Linked DNA regions of Homo sapiens. The protein of the gene in region 2 purifies or fractionates together with the protein of the main gene of each other region. This does not show direct contact. Each region holds a gene or a part of one and is shown on either strand. Other genes may lie near its edges.

Region 1 (7,431 bases), on a different chromosome or scaffold from region 2:
CAGAATGATACTGATATCAAAAACAGAAAGGAAAAGAAGTAGAGAAAAACTACAACACCCATTTCACTTTTGTTCATAGATGCAAAAAACCTACATAAAATTATAGCAATCAAATCTAGCAGTCTTTAAAGGAAAACAAGAAACCTGCCTTTGTAGTTCAGTATGTTAAAACATTAAAGGAGGGAAAAAGAACATACCAACAGCTGAATTAATTAGGGAAAAAATAAGTTTTGATACATTTAACACTCATTCAAATTAGGAATTAAGGGGAAGAATTTTAAACATAATAAAAAGAATCTACCAAAACCCTAGAGCAAACCTCAAATGTAGTGATTATTAAAAGTGGGCTTCTCAAAATCATAAACAAGGAAGCTCACCATCACTTTTTCTATTCCATATCACACGGGAAGTCCTAAACAGAGAAAAAGAGAGAATGTAGGAGAATTATCAAGGGACAAAATGATCAAAATTTGCATATAATTGTCTTCATCAAAAATCCAAGGGAATTCACAGAATGAATAAGAGAGTTCAGCAGGACTGAAGATCTGTGTGTATATAAACGCAGATGTAGCATCAACATCTAAAAATTCTACATTTATAACCAATTAGAAAATAGAAAAAATTCCACTTATTATATAGCAACTATTCAGTACCTTGAAGCAAATTATATACGCAAGAATTTTATGTAGTAAAATGATAAAACACTATTAAAGGTAAAAACCCATAAATGGAGAAGTATCATATTCGTGGAAAATTCAATAGCATAAATAAGTCAGTTCTCTACAAATTAATCTGTAAATCCAATGTAATTGCGATTTATGAGGGGGCTTGCCCTACCAGTTATTATGTTATCTTATTGTTTAGCTATCTGGTATTATAATACAGGAATGAAGCTTGAAAAATCTATCCACTTGAGCGATTAGCATCTTCCTTAGTCTATCCTTTCGGACAGTGATTATTTCCTCCAACAGAAGCAGAACTGCAAAAGGTTTTGGATTGAGGTCCCTGGGAAGTAGCATTCTAATGATCAATGCCAAGACAACAGGTGGCAAAACAGATACCATACTGTTATAATTTCATATTCTTGCTTACAGGGATGGCCAGACATTTTACTCTTCTACATGACACAGAAGTATTCTAGAAGATTCAGGTAGTGTAGGGAGTTACTCTGTTCATATGCTTCAGATGTGCACAACTCAGAGTACAGATAACAGAACAAGTAACAACTGGCCACCATATAATACTGTTTAGCTATCTCGTTTTATAAAGTAACTCGTGCTAGAATACAATAATAGTCCCTGTATATTTCTCATTTTAAGCAGGACTGTATCCCTAAGGATGCACCAGAACCAGGTGCAAAATACACTCTCAAATAACTGAACAAATAAACCTAATCCAGGTATTTAATACTATATGGTTAATGATAATGAAAATAACCGTTTTGATTGAGGCATAGCTGATAAAGAACTATATATAGAAAACAGATTAATTTGCTTAAGTACACTTTTGAACTGGGATAATCGGCCCATTTCATCAGAGAGAAGAAGATATGATTATCTTCCTACTTGCTGTGGTAAATTGGTCTGTGTATAGTTCACCTAAACACAGTACCTTTCAGTTTTAATTTCAAATATGCTTATAGATCATATGTAGATCATACGATAACTCTAGTTTAACCCTCTGATACAAACTGCCAACTATTTCCAAATTTTAATCTAGTTATTTTATATTAAAACGGAAGGGAGTTGTTAAAAGGCACTTTTTTATAAGGGTATGTATGATGGCAAATAAAACAGACATCGCCTCTGCCCTTGGAACTTACAGTCCAGTGGAGACAGACAAAAAGGAAATTCACAAATGAATTTATTGTAACAAATTATGCTAATTAGAAAGAAAAATCACTGAGACAATGAAAAAGACCAACAAGGGAGCCTACTTAGCATGGTCAAGGAAGGCCACTCACATTACAGGTTGAAGGCGTGTGTGACTGTCTCTTTCCTGAGATAGAAAGAAAACCTGGAAGAGTTTTTGGAACTAAAAGGCCAGTGAAGCTGGAGAGTTTTAGGGGGAAAAGGGGAAGAGGGAATAAGATCAAATAGAGGAGGCAGGAGGAGCCACATCGATCAGAGCTTTTGAAATGCAACAGGAAACTACTGTAGAATTTTAAGCAAAGGCATGGTAGATCAAATTAAAAGATTACACTGGCTGCTGTGTGAAAACTTGGGGATGAGGAGTAGAATGGGCCAAGAATGAAAGCACCGTTGTCAGGATAGTTGTAATTACACTGAGAACAGATAAGAAAAGGAATATTTGAACGAGAATGGTAATTCTGATTGCAGTGGGAAGCATCCTTTCAATTTAGAAACCAACCTAAAGGAAATTTACACAAGGTAAACTCTATGAACTTGATATTAAGCGAAATAACCTAAACTATCAAGTGAACTAACTATTCGTGGCAATTCCTGCTACCCAAATAACTTCCAACAGTATCTTGCTGTTTACTTGGGCTACGTTTTAAATTAAACAACATGCTTACTTGGGCTAAATTTTCGCCCACTTCAAATATCTTCTAATACGCAGGCGAACTACTCAGATCAAAGACAAAGAAAGGATAAACGGCAGGTGAACGAGATGACGAGAAGGGAATGCTGCAGAGTGAGTGGTCCCGAAGATCCAGCCAGTCTCCAGAAAAAAGTACTTGTAAGCAGCCTCATTCAGATGAAAGAAAGAAGGAAAAGTTCAACCGCCGAATTTCTTACTTATATTCTTCCTCCAAGGCGAGGAGGTCGGGTCCAGGTGTAGAGGGTTGCTGAACGGGTGGCGGGAACGGAGTCCCTGGAACGCTGCTTCTCTGTAAAAGAGCCACAGACTTTCAGACCCGAAGTTAAAGGAAGTTAGGCGTCCTAGTCGCCGGAACCCAGACGCTCCCCAGGAGCCTGGAGTTGAACTGACCGTGAGACACAGACTTCGCCCCGCCATCTTCGGCGACTGCGACGCGGTTACCGAGGCAACGACGCATCTTCCCGCGAGAGTTTCCACATCCCGGTTGCCTCCCGCCCGGGCGCCTACGCCTTCCCACTCTCAGGTTCTGTGCTGCGAGCGGCGCGAGCCTCTGGCAGCGGGCTCGGCCTTTGCTCGCAGCACTCGGCGCTGTCCCAGGAACCCAGGAAGGCTTCCTAACTGCAAATTCGACTTAGTTAGTGCAAATTCTCAACTTGTGGGGGTTGAAAGAGTTTCAGCCAAAACAGGCAGGTCCTTTGCCGCTACTCTATAGAAAGCAAGCTGGTGAGGCAATCCCTCCCTGTTGTGCTTTTCAAACCGTTAGTGGCTAATCCGACCTTCACCCCGTTTGCTTAAAGTGAGCTCTTCAGTGGAATTCAGAAGTTTTGATTTCTAATTTTTGTTTACAGCATGCATGGCTAAGACTCAGGCTCTCAAGTTAGTCAACCTAAATTATTATCCTGGCACTGCCACTTACCAGTTATATGGCCTTGGGCAAATCACTCTGTATATCGGCCACTTCATTTGTCAAATGGAAGTGAGAATAGTGCCCACTTCACAGTTATTATGAGAAGCAAATGAATTCGTGCTTAGGATCATGCCTGAAACACGTAAGCGGTTAACAATTTCAATTGTTTTGGAATAAAATTGACATCCAAAAATAAACCGTGATATGATGTATGGTCATCTGATCTTTAGAAAGGGTGCAAGACCATTCAATGGGAAAATAATTGTCTTCAACAGATGGGGAGACAACTGGATATCCAAATGCAATTAGACCCTTAACTTCACACCATATACAAAAATTAAAATGTATCAAAGACCTAAACTTAGGAGCTAAAACTCTAAAGCTCTTCAAAGAAACTGTTGGTGTAAATCTTTATGACCTTGAATTACAATTCTGAGAATCCTTGATGGATTCTTAGATATGACACCAAAAGCAGTAGCAAAAAAAAAAAAAAAGAAAAGAAAAAAGAGGCTGGGCACAGAGGCTCATGCCTGTAATCCAAGCACTTTGGGAGGCCAAGGCGGGTGGATCACCTGAGGTTGGGAGTTCAAGACCAGCCTGACCAATATGGAGAAACCCCGCCACTCCTAAAAAAAAAAAATTAGCCGGGTGTGGTGGCTCATGCCTGTAATCCCAGCTACTGGGGAGGCTGAAGCAGGAGAATCGCTTGAACCTGGGAGGCAGAGGTTGCGGTGAGCTGAGATTGCACCATTGCGCTCCAACCTGGTCAACAAGAGCGAAATTCCATCTCAAGAAAAAAACAAAAAAAAGGAAAAAAAAATAGATAAACTAGACATTATCAAAACTAAAAACCTTTAGTTTCAAAAGATACCATAAATAAAGTAACAAGACCACAGGAAGAGGGGAAATTCTTGCAAATTATATATCTGATAAATAACTTGTGTCTGGACTATATAAAGAAGTATTAAAATTCAAAAATAGGTAGGTGCAGTGGCTCATGCCTGTAATATGAGCACTTTGGAGGCTAAGTCAGGAGGATCACTTGAGCCCAGGAGTTCCAGACCAGCCAAGGCAACACAGCAAGACTCCATCTCTACAAAAAAAAAAAAAGGAAATAGATAAATAAAAATTAGCTGGGTCCAGTGGTACATGCCTGTAGTCCCAACTACTAGGAGACTGAGGTGGGAGGATCACTTGAGCCAGGGAGATCAAGGCTGCAAAGAGCCATGGTCACACCACTGCACTCTAGCCTGGGTCACAGAGTGAGACCCTGTCTCAAAAAAAAAAAGAAAAACAATTTAAAAAAATTTTTAAAAAAGACAACCCAAGTTAAAAATGGGCAAAGAAATAGGGATTTCTCCAAAGAACATATACAAGTAGGCAAAAAGCACATGAAAAGATGCTCAGTATTGTCCTCAGGGAAATGAAAATTAAAACCAAAATGAAATGCCACTTGACACCCACTAGAATGGCGATAATCAAAAGGATGGATAGCCAGGCGCGGTGGCTCACACCTGTAATCCCAGCACTTTGGGATGCTGAGGCGGGCAGATCACCAGAGGTCAAGAGTTTGAGACCAGCCTGGCCAACATGGTGAAATGCTGGGAGATAGAAGTTGCAGTGAGCCGAGATAGCACCACTGCACTCCAGCCTGGGTGACAGAGGGAGACTCCATCTCAAAAAAAAAAAAAAGGATGGACAATAACGTGTAGAGGAGGATGTAGAGAAACTTGAACCCTCATAAACTGTTAGTGGGAATGGGAAAATTGTGCAGCCACTGTGGAAAATGGTCTAGCAATTCCTCAATAGTTTATACACAGAGTTACCAAACAATCCAGCAACCACTGCTAGGTATACACCCAAGGAAAATGAAAACACACCCACATGAAAAGTATATGTACAAATGTTTATGTCAGGATTATTCATAACAGCCAAAATGCAAAACAAACCCATAATGGTCATAAACTGATTAGTAATTAAATAAAAAGTGGTATATTCATACAATGGAATATTATTCAGAAATGAGAAAGAATGAAGTACATGTATACCACAATATGGATGAACCTTGAATATATTATGCTAAGTGAAAGAAGCCATTCACAAAAGACCAAGTATTATCTAATTTCTTTCACAAAAGATCACATACTATAGGATTCTATTTCAATATGACTACATATTGTAGGAAATGTCCGCAATAGGCAAATCCATAGTGACAGAAGTAGATTAGTAGTTGTCTAGGCTTGGCAGATGATGGAGGGTTAGCTAAGGAGTTGCAGGGTTTGGGGGGCGCTAGTGAAAATATTCTAAAATCAATTGTGTTGATGGTGTACAACTCTGTGAATACACTAAAAGCCAATTAATAGTACACTTTATATGGGTAAATATAGATATGTGAAATAAATCACTCAAGCTGTTAAAACATCTTAAAAATAAACTATTTACAACATCGAGGGATAAAGAAAGGAACACTATGCTAGCACTAATCAAAAGGAAGCTGGAGTCGCTATATTAATTTCAAACAAAGATGACATCAGAACAAGGAAAATTATCAGGGACAAAGAGGAGCATTAATGATAGAGGTCAATTCTCCAAGGGGATAGAACAATCCTGGTGTAAATCCTCCTAACAGTAGTGTCAAAATGCATGAGGCAAAAACTGGTAGGACTTGCAAAGAGAAATAGACAAATCCATCATTATATTTGGAGACTTCAATACTACTCCTTCAGTAATTAACAGGTTAAGCAGGCAGAAAATCAGCAAGAGTTGCTCTGGACAGCACCATCAATTAGCTTGATCTAATTGACATTTATAGAATACTCATTTCAATAACAGCAGAATACACATTTTTCTCAAGGTCGCATGGAACATTCACCAAGCTAGAACACATTCTAGCCATAACACACTTTAATAAATTTAAAAGAATATAAATTATATAGTTTAGGGTAGCTGTAATAAAGCACCACCAAGTGAGTGGCTTAAAACAACAGAAATTTATTGTCTCATGGGTCTGGAGGCTAGAAGTCCAAAACCAGGCTAGAAGTATCACCAGGACTATGTTTTGCTTGAAACCTGCAGGGGAGACTCTTTCTTTGCCTCTTTCTAGCTTCTATGGTGGCTGTCACTTCTTGGCATTCCTTGGCTTGCAGCTGCATCACTACAACCTCTCTCTGCCTCTATAATCATGTAGCATTTCCCCTGTGTGTTTCTGCTTTTGCATGGCATTCCTGCTTTTCATGAAGACTCCAGTAATATCGGATGTGGGCCACCCTAATGACCTCATCCTAACGTGATTACATCTGTAAAGACCATATTCACAGGTACTGGGGGTTAGGACTTCAATATATGGTAGGGAGGGGGAGGTGGCACACTTTAACCTATAACCGAAATTATACAAACTATTTTATTGTGGTCCCAGAGCACAATAAAACTAAACTAAAAATCAATAACAAAACAGCTGGACACCCACAAAATATTTGCAAATTAAATTCATACTTCTAAATAATACATGGATCAAGTAAATATCTAGAGGAATTAAAAAAACATTTTGAACTAAATAAAATTTGAAATATAACTTATCAAAACCTGTGGAATGTTATGAAAGCAGTGCTTGGAGTGCTTAGCATTCAATGCATATATTAGAAAAGAAGAAAAATCTAAACTCTGAATGTCTACCTTCAAGGCAGCTAAAGGAAAAATATTAAACTTAAAGCAAAAGAAAAGTAACAATAAACATTAGAACATAAATCAATGGAACTGAAACAGGGAAACAATAGAGAAAATCACAGAAACCACAATCTAGTTAAAATCAATAAACTTATAGCTGTGCTAACCAAGAAAAAGAGAAGATCCAAGTAACCTGTTCTGTGTTATTTTCTGTGATGGTCAGTCAGGTGTGGCCATGAGAGGAAAACAACATTTATTATACTCACAGGTCCTAGAAATAGGACGCATGCCATGCCATA
Region 2 (3,246 bases):
TTTTTTGCAATCTATCCATCTGACAAAGGTCTAATACCCAGAGTCTACAAGGAACCACCACGTGTCAGTTGATTGTTCTCAAAATGGTGGTGCTATCCCTCACAGTACTATCACCAGCTACTAGTCTGACTGTTGGGAAAACGTAAAGGGGATACTATTCAGCTGGAATTTGAGTGTGATCCTCTGGACATCAGTGTGGATGTTGATGTTGGAAAGGATCTGTGGACTCTGAGGAATATTGGTGTCATGCTGTTTAGAGAGGGTATGCTCTGACATGGCAGGGCTTTCTTGGGTCTATGTCTGAGGCGTCACATCAAGCAAACTGAGGACCCATAAAGGAAAACTGTAACCCTGGGAGATACTGTAAGGATAAACACTAATGCTCACTACTCTCTAGCTCTTGTTAAACACTCCTTCCTCTCTTTTTATGAGATGTTATGACGAGGCAACAAAAAGGGTGTTAGAATGAATTTTGGAATGCAGATAAAGATATTGCCCATAGAATCTTTTGTGAAGATTTATTCTAACGGGACTGTACTTGTATTTTTTATTTCCATGATGTTGGGGACAATCATAAAGTCAAAGATTCCACTAGTTGGATTGGGCTTTTTTTTTTTTACATTATTCCAGTAATTGCACAGAGGCTGCAACCCCTGGGAGGTAGGTGGGAAATGTCAGGGAGCTGCAATAGACAGAAAAAGGAGTGGGGTAATCTTAACTGTAACAATGGCAACTTTCAACAACACTAACTTGTTATTCTGCTTGAAAAATTATTTTTTAGAAATAGTCAAATATTTATGTTTGAGTTTTATTTTAAATGCTCCTTTTCTATAAAATCATCTAAATATTTAATAGATAATTTGGAATTTTTGACAGCATTCCAAATATTATGAAATTTTAAATATTTCTTCTAAACAATCACACAAATATATATATTTCCAAACCAAAACAGATATTCCCATGCTTGAAATGCTATTTCTAATTTCTAATTTATTCTTAAGGGCTAATTTGCAAAATGAAATTGTTTGGATGATTGGTTTGCAGTAAACATGGTGTACCAAATTGGTTTCTAAATTTAGAGAAAGGTTGAGTCTCCTCTTATAATAATCAAGAAATAATAGAAGTATTAATGATAATGAAGCTTCCATAATTAAAAAGTCAAATTCTGAAATAACAAGCAGAAATGAACATTAGCAGGTAGCAGCTACATAATTTATAATTCTCACAAAGTTATTTTGAGCTCTTTTTATAGGATAACATAACCTCCAACATGTAGTTTACTAAATTATAGTATAAGTACTATATGTGCCATAATTAAGTTCCATAATTTGGGGGAATTTAGTACTATTAAATATAACTTAAAGATACAGGAAATATAGTGCATAAAATTCTAAGAATCACAAAAGAAAGGCAAAGTTGTTTTAATAGATGCTATGATTTCTATGTCTGATATTTCAAACATTTTAGAAAGTAGTAATTATTATTATCCATATACATGTTTTCAAAGAAAAATGCTCTTTACATATAGAATTTGAGGATGAGCTCTATATTTTAAATACAGTAGACTCCATGTCCTTTCTTGGAGGTTTTTGAGGACTAATTTTTGGTAATATCTCTTTAGCATAAAGTGTTCTATGAAGTCCAGCTTCTCGAAGTGCTAACTCGAAGCGAAGTCTAGGGTCAGAAATTATCTGTAGAAATAAAAATACAATTTAAATAACAATTCATTGAACTAAAATAACTTTTAACATTTAGTTCCATGTTTTCCCAAACTAATTTGTTTTTACTGGACAGATGACTAGGTGACAGTAAACTGTGAATACAGTGACTATATTTTGGAAACATCTAAACCTTTTTGACATTATCACTTTTCAGTACATCAGTGGTTTCCCATGTAGGGTATATAGAACATAGTGTACTAGATTAGTCAAAATATAATGCGTTAAAATTATTAAAAGATGAAGTAAAAGAAGCTTACTTTCAGTGCTACTATTGATTTATCACTTATTGCTGGCTGGAATTATAAAATACAGATAATCATTGATTAAAATAAATCTAAGCCACAAAAAAAGCATCTTAATTTCTCCATCATCTGGCAATATGTAAATTAAGTTTAAACACATGGCCACCACTTGAAAAACAAAATCAATAGAACTTTTCTTCCAAGGCTGGATTTCTATTTCAAACAGAAGTAGAAAATGCCTCCATCGATCTGATTCTAAGTGGAAGTAGACATATGAGTAGTTCAACTTCTGTTTTCATTTATAGCTGATTGGATCTTATTCCTCTTCCCCTCCTCCTATGAATATTAAATGTCAACAGAGACTGTTTGAAATGATAAGAAGGTGGCCACATATGGATTTTACCTAATGAGGCATTTTACATGGATTTGAAGTCCCCCTAGAGGATGTGATAATAAGCTAGTAAAAGCAGCCCCTCCAGGAGCTCTTAGGCGAACTGGGGCAATAAAAATGTACACAGATAACTACAGATTATGGCAACATGTGGCAGATGCCCTAAAAGTAGTAAAACATGGGGGTGCATCTCCTGGTGGTGGCGGCATGCGGATGGTCTCAGGTGAAGATGAGCAATTGAACTACCCTTAAAGTCCAACTTAGTCTATAAAGCAGACTGGGGAGGAAGAGAGACCTAATGAGAAAGGAAGACACCTACAAACTCAGAGGTGAAATAGGCCAACTTGGGATAAGGGTGGTTTGAGCAGAGTACTGGTTACCATTGAGGAACACTGGAAACAGATGCTTCTCAGACTAGGACTTGAACTTAAAAGGCTTGCATGGCCATGCCGAGTCTAAGGAGCTACTAGGGTATGTTTGTTTCTAGTTTTTGCATAAAAATAATATAATCATTGTAGTTGCATAGGAAGATGGGTCTGATTGTAAGTTCAGAATAAATTAAGGTGGCAGGGAAAGAAGAAATGGAGGCCGAGAGAGTGGTTAGGAATTTACTACAATTGTCTAGACATAAAGTAATAAATGTCTGAACTTGGCTGGTAGCAAGGAAGAGATAATTGTCAGAAACACTATGAAAACAAGAATCAATAGCACTTGGCAGTTGATCAGATACAGGGCTTGGGGCAACGATGAGTATGAAGTCAAGAATAATACAGAGATTTGTGTCTGAGAAGCAATAAATATGAGCCTAAGACCCAGGTTTTTCCTCTTCTGTCTCAATGTCTTCTCCCTGGTCTGCTCTCATGTGCTCCAGTGATTCATGTGCAACCTGTAT
Region 3 (7,065 bases), on a different chromosome or scaffold from region 2:
CCTGCCCAACCAGGAGCCAGGACTGGACATCTCATGACAAGATGCCTTCAGTCCTGCTGTGGTTAGGCAGGCGGCAGAAATTAGTATGAGGAACCCAGGACAACAGGGCAGCCAAGTTGGATTCAGGGCTCTCTGAGGTAACAGGAGGGCCCACAGCCACAGTGACTGCCCGTGGGGCTGGTGAGAAGTTGGGGGCACAGTTGGGCCCGGAAGGCTGGAGGGGAACACACACTGGGCAGGCCTGCACTCTCTTTGGACACACAGCAGTAGGAGAACAGACCTCCTCTCGTCCCCAAGAGCAGGCTGGGCTCTATGTGGGGCCAGAGAAAAGGCCTCCCGGCCTGAGGCCAAGGGACACTTGGCCACTGACGAGAAGGGGACAGGGTCACTCACTTGAAGGCACCAGAGTAGCTGAAGTACGGTTCCTGGGAGGAGAAGGCACATTTGTTTTCCCCTGTCCCCGCACACAGGCGACACAGGTTGGGGAACTGTCCTTTATCTGCACCGGGAACACAGCTGGCTGAGAAGAACCTGGCCACAGCTGTTAAACACAGAGAAGTGGACCACAGAGTGTGAGCCAGCCCTGGTCACAGCAGGTTACACCTCCCATCCTGAGGTCTCCGTGGGCAAGGCCCCTTCCTCCACCCCTGCAGGAGAGACTCTGTCATGGGGCTGGGAGCTCGAGACATGCACCTCTGCCGAGAGCAGACTCAGCTGTGCCTCCCAAGGGCTGCTAGGGTAACGGATCCTGCCAGCAGGATGTTACAAGCTGGCCAGCCTCACCCCCACCTTGATTCATCCCACACTTTCACCTGCATGATCTGTGTGGCCTGTGCTTACAACTGGAATAGAGCCCCCTGCCTGAGGCCACTCACTATCCCCCAGCCATCTTACCTGCCTCAATGGGCTCAGGTGGACCCGTCCAATTCAAGAATGGACGAAGTGTCCCTATAGGGACATTCCATCCAGCGGTCCTGCGAAGGCCTGTGTGGCAGGACTTCAGACCTTGCAGTTCGTTCAGCTGAAAGCTGCCGCCCTTCTTCACCACAGCCACGGCATAATAGTGAGTTCGTGGCTCTGCAAAGGGGCAGACAGAATTGAAAGTTCTTAGCCTGGACAAGAGGGACAAAAACAACCCATCCTGAAAAGTCTCCGGTGGGAAGGGGGAATGCTGTGCTGCAGTTTCCTCACAGCTCACGTGTGTCCTCCTCTCGTGGGTCAGCGTCAGGAGGAACGGCCTTCATCTGGCCCAGAGCCCAGCGACTCCATTCCCTACATGTGTGATGTGACCCAGACTCCACCTCCACATGTTCCCCCAGTCTTAATCCACACAGCTCAGGGCACAGGCTGAGGCCACCGTGGCCTCTGGGTCCCCAGGCAGAACTCACGTCTTTCGGTCCCGTAGACTTCCGCCGCTACAGGTCGCAGTTTGTAGGGGGCCAGGCCTGCCTCGTATATGAAACCACCATCAAGGGTCACAGCATCGGCCCTGTTTTCCTGAAAGTAAAGAGGCCAGACTGGCTTCAGCAGAAAACTCACCCAAACCCAGCAAGTGGGACTTCAGGACCTCAAAAAGTCTCCATGGCTGGAAGGGTCGTCAAAGGGGTCCGCTTTCCATCCTGTCCCCTCACTTCCTATGAGAGATGGTGAGAGCCAAGGACCCCTGTTTTGGGACAGTGAGCACCAGCCCTCTAAGTCCTGAGACTGGCGCCTGCCCTCTTTCTCCTCTGCCTGCCTGTGTCACTCTCCCGATCACACCCCTCACAGTCATCTATATTTGAAGTCGTTTGTTCTAGATACTTTCTATTTTTGCTCTATATTCATTTCTTTTAAGTTCTGTTTTATTGGATAGAAAATATAGTTATTAAGCTATCCTAAAATTTTCATAAGAAACCATGTTCCTCCGCTTCAGCACATTGCTTCCCACATGATTACATATTTCTTTGGTTTGCAATGTGGGATAGTTTAGTGGTCCCCAACTTTTTTGCCACCAAGGACCAGTTTCAGGGAATGTAATTTTTCCACAGACAGATGGGGAATGGTTTTGGGATGAAACCGTTCCACCTCTGATCATCAGGCATTGGATTCTCATAGGGAGTGCAACCTAGATCCCTCGCATGCACAGTTCACACTAGGGTTCACACTCCTATGAGAATCTAATGCCGCCGCTGATCTGACAGGAGGTGGAGCTCAGGCAGTCATGCTCACTGGCCCTCTGCTCACCTCCTGGTCTGAGGTCTAGTTCCTAACAGGCCATCAACCGGTACCAGTCCGTGGCCAGGTGGTGGGGACCCCTGGGATACATCATATTTTGTGGACTGCTTATTCCTCTAAAACTGGATACATTTTCTAACTTCTGCAGAGCCTTTACTGATTTTGTAGACAGCATAATGTTTTCTCATAATGTGGGTGTTCTATCGTGTATTGAATAATTTCCCCCAATGTTTAGCATTTAAGTTTATTTCTAACTGTTTCCTGTGAAGACTGTATTTTCATGAATATCTTTGTCCTCAGTGTTTTTCCTTGTGACCACTTGTGTCCTTGGGTAGGCAGCTGAGGGTGGAATCCCCCAGATGAGGAGCACGTTTCCCCCTGTGACCCGGGCTGCCGTTGCCATTCTGCTTCCAGAAGACTTATAATACCAATTCAGAATGGCGCTGACCGTGAGGACCAGCTTCACTCTTGAATCACCAGCAGGGCAGGCTATCATTCTATTAGCTGTTATTACTATAGAAAATGTGAGTACTAACAAATCGCTCAGGTCTGATTAGTAAGGGGAACATCTCACAAGTATTTTTTATTAATTATGAATTCCCTCTTACTGGTAACTCTGTTCATATCATTTTTCTTCTATGATTCTACATTTTTTCCAATTTGGGTTATTCTTTTATTTATTTATTTTTTCGAGCGGAGTCACCCAGGCTGGAGTGCAGTGGTACCATCTCAGCTCACTGCAACCTCCACCTCCCGGGTTAAAGCGATTCTCTTGCCTCAGCCTCCTGAGTAGCTGGGACTACAGGCGTGTGCCACCATGCCTGGCTAATTTTTTTTTTTTTGTATGTTTAGTAGAGATGGGGTTTCACCATCTTAGCCAGGATGGTCTTGATCTCCTGACCTCGTGATCCACCTGCCTTGACCTCCCAAAGTGCTGGGATTACAGATGTGAGCCACCACGCCCGGCCTTGAGTTATTCTTTTATAGAGTGTAAATAGTAATCATGTGTCAGAGCTGGCGCATATTCATTCATTCCAGTCCTTTCTAATTTTTTTATTTAAATATTTTCTATGGGCTATGAATTACATTTTCTGTATTTTAGAATATCTGTTTGTTTCGTGATTTAGATCATCATTTAAGAGATTTCTATTTCCTCTACAGTTCTGCTAGTTAACCTGCCCCCTAGTTTTTCAATAATACAAGTTTTATTTTTAACCATTTAATCTATCTCAACTTTATTTGAATGAATGGTATGTAGTACTGATTTCAAACAGGGATCTTATTTTCCGAGATCAGACGAGATCAGACGCGTTCAGCGTGGTATGGCCTTGGACAGGATCTTATTTTAAAAGGCAGATTTTGTGGCTTCTTTCACATATATTCAGATTGAGTAGGTTAGAATAGAGCCTAGGAATCTGCATTTTAAACAAGCAAGAGATGCTGGTGCTGGTTTTTTGTTTTTGTTTTTTGTTTTTTGAGATGGAGTCTCGCTCTTGTCGCCCAGGCTGGAGTGCAATAGCATGATCTTGGCTCACTGCAACCTCCCCCTCCCGGGTTCAAGTGATTCTCCTGCCTCAGCCTTGTAAGTAGCTGGGAATACAGGCATGTGCCACCACACCCAGCTAATTTTTGTATTTTTAGTAGAGGCAGGGTTTCACCATGTTGGCCATCCTGGTTTTGAACTACTGACCTCAGGTGATCCTCCCACCTCGGCCTCCAAAGTGCTGAAATTACGGGCGTGAGCCACCGCGCCCAGCCACTGGTACTGTTTGTATGCAGGTAATAGTTGTAAAATAATAGCCTAAAACATTGATTAAACTAGATTTTTCCCTAAGTGCTATTCTAATAACTCCATTGTATTTATAAGATAATCCTATGAAGTTGCCTCGGGAACTTTTATGCAAATTATTCACTCTGCTGGAGTTGAGTACACATGATTATGGCACATGGCAGGTACACAGAATATATTTGTTGAATGAATGAGTAAAAATCATTTCAGTAGATCTTACATCTCAAAAAATAAAAGGAATCAGAAATCATATACAAGTCATGATACCCTTTTCTCTCTCTCTGAAAGTGTCTTGGACAAAAGTCTTTCTAACACCCAGCACCCTGGCAGGCCCTGCCCCAGCCATGTGATGTGGCAACGGTGACCAGGACAAGCTTCTTTCTCACAGGGTTTAGAGGTCATGACTCTTTTGGAGGATTTCCCTCTCTGAGTAACTTTGCTTTTTGCTGATCCTATGTATTCATCAAATACAACTGATTACATTTCATTTTGGAACAGTTGTTATTAATGAATAACAGTTGTTATTATAGTTTATGTGGAGGCTCCAGGTTCCTCACACATGGTCTCTTGACTTAAGCTCCTTCCTTTCTGCTCTGAAAATAGCACAGTTCCCTGTGAGAGAGGACGGCTCCCCACTTCGTTGCCCAACAGGTGAAGCAGAGGAAGTAAGGAGAGCTCGTGTTCTATCTTTTTCCATTTCTCTCTCCCTTCCATTCAGCTTGGTCCCAACCAACACCCGGCATTGACTCACCGCAATGGCCTGGATACACTGGATGGGGGAGTCTCTCTTTATGCAGCTGACAGGAGGGCCACGCACTTTTCTCATATTCCTTTGCCATTGGAAGCATTTTGTGGCCTCGGGTTGGGATACGGCGCACCACTGAACACTCCTCCTACGGCCAGCCAGACACAGTCCTGGGAGAGAGGGGCCAAGGAGTAAGGATTCAACCACTGACTGAGGGCGTGACCACCGCACCCTCTGATGGAGTTTTCCAGACTCCTCCCTCTCTCTCGGCTGCCCTCCTTCCCTCTCCATTTCATGGCTATGTCCAGCCATTCTCCACAAGTGGAGGCATCTTGCTGGACTAATAGGATCTCTGCATTGGCTAGAGGTCTGTGGTTCTCAATAAATTAAAGGAGAAAGTCCCTCTAGATTATTTTCATTCCTATGACTTTGACATGTTTCCTACCACTTAAAAAATGATGGTGATCCCCCAGATCAGTTATGGAATTCTTCTACCAGCTTTGCCCACTTTGAACCTGGAAGGTAGGCAGGAAAGGAGTCATTGCTCCTGTTTTACTGATGTGGAAATTGGCTCCTAAGGAGGCTGAGTGACTCGCCACTCAGCAGTGCAGAGCCCAGCTGAGAATCCACGTCTCTCTAGATTGTTTTGTGCATAAATCTCTTCCCAGGGAATGCCAAGAGAACAGGGGAAAATATACCTGAGTCGGTTGGTAGCTGAGGTAAATGGTAAGTCAGTGTCAATGGGGACAAATCAGTTGGTTGGTGTGCCTGAGCTACCACCATTCACTCTGCACAGAAAGACTGGTGCTCCTGTTGAGCCTGCTTTTTTTGCTCAAATACTGGTTCTTCTTTTGAGCCTGCTTTTGTTGCTCAAATCCATGTAATTAGGGAGGAAGATGCATTGAATTTACTCACCTGGTTGCCTGATAAAAGGCATCCACAAAAAACCTGCAATGAACATCATACTAAAATGGTGAAAGACTGACTGCTTTCCACCTAAGATCAGGAATGATGAGAGAGTGTCCACACTCAACTCTTCTATTCAACAGTACTAGAGATTCTAGTCACAGCAATAAGGCAAGAAAAGAAATGAGACACCCATATTGGAAAGAAAGAAGTAAAACTGACTTTACTTTCAGATAACATGATCTTCTATGTAGAAAATACTGAAGAATCTACAAAGTACTATTAGAATTAATAAACAAGTACAGCCAGGCCACAGGATACAAGATCAATATACAAAAATTGATCATATTTTTGCATACAGCACAGAACAATCTAAAAATGAAATTAAGAACATAATGCTAGATAGTATAACATCAAAAAGGATTTAGTACATGACGGGTAAATGATAAGAACAGACATTTTACCAAAGAAGATATATGAATGGACAATAAGCACATGAAAAGTGCTCAATATCATTAGTCAAAAATGCAAATTGAAAATGCAACGAAATATCATTTCACAGCCACTGAACAGGTTATAATAGCTAAAACAGACAATGACACATATCGATGAGGATGTGGAGAAGTGGAAACCCTCATACATTGCTGAGAATGTAAAATGACCAGCCACTTTGTAAAACAGGTTGGCAGCTTCTCAAAATGTGAAGCACAGAGTTCCAATAGGACCCAACAATTGCACTTCTAGGCATATAGCCAGAAGAAATATTATAAGAACCTATCATACATAAATGCTTGTGCATGAATATTCATAGCAGTGTTATTTAGAATAGTAGAAAACTGGAAACAACCTAAATGTCCAATAACTGGTGAATGTACATCCATTCAATGGAATATTACTCAGCAGTGAAAAGAACTACTGGCATGCCCCACAACATGAACGAGCCTCAGTTATGCTCAGTGAAGGAAGCCAGACACAAGAGACCACATGCTGTATGATTCCATTTGAATGAAATGTCCAGAAAAGGCAAATTTATGGAGACAAGAAAATAGATTAGTGGTTGTCTGATGCTGGGGTAGAAATGAGGATTAACTATAAACAGGCATGAGGGACCTTTACTGGGGGGGATAAAAGTGTTCTAAAACAGATTTATGGTGATAGTTGCACACTCGGTAAGGTTACTGAAACTCATTGAATTGTACGCAAATAGGTGATTTTTTATGATATGGAAAATGTACCTCAGTAAAGCTGTTACCAAAAACTAAAACAAAAAACAAACAAACAAAAAAACAAAATAAACACACAGTTGTAAAAGCCCTCTGCCCTTTGGATGTGCTATGGGGTAGAATGTTCAGCCTCTGCTGTCTCCTGTTTCTGAGCCATCCCCTTATGGCGAGAGCCACCCATGGCCCTT

What was found.
Region 1: the proteins of CCDC148 (region 2) and TEX9 purify together in Homo sapiens (affinity purification with mass spectrometry; 3 studies listed by BioGRID and IntAct, with this or other methods). This does not show direct contact.
Region 3: the proteins of CCDC148 (region 2) and LTF purify together in Homo sapiens (affinity purification with mass spectrometry; 3 studies listed by BioGRID and IntAct, with this or other methods). This does not show direct contact.

The regions. Positions count from the first base shown.
Region 1 is NC_000015.10:56,360,999-56,368,429, reverse strand, and holds the start of TEX9 (testis-expressed protein 9), read right to left. Parts: upstream 3,005-7,431; 5' UTR 2,980-3,004; coding exon 2,953-2,979; intron 2,852-2,952; coding exon 2,760-2,851; exon of another isoform or gene 2,537-2,759; intron 423-2,536; exon of another isoform or gene 378-422; intron 1-377.
Region 2 is NC_000002.12:158,170,569-158,173,814, forward strand, and holds the end of CCDC148 (coiled-coil domain-containing protein 148), read right to left. Parts: intron 1,692-3,246; coding exon 1,545-1,691; 3' UTR 505-1,544; downstream 1-504.
Region 3 is NC_000003.12:46,454,902-46,461,966, forward strand, and holds part of LTF (lactotransferrin isoform 1 preproprotein), read right to left. Parts: intron 4,919-7,065; coding exon 4,755-4,918; intron 1,498-4,754; coding exon 1,389-1,497; intron 1,078-1,388; coding exon 895-1,077; intron 542-894; coding exon 394-541; intron 1-393. UniProt on the Homo sapiens protein: Transferrins are iron binding transport proteins which can bind two Fe(3+) ions in association with the binding of an anion, usually bicarbonate. Lactoferricin binds to the bacterial surface and is crucial for the bactericidal functions.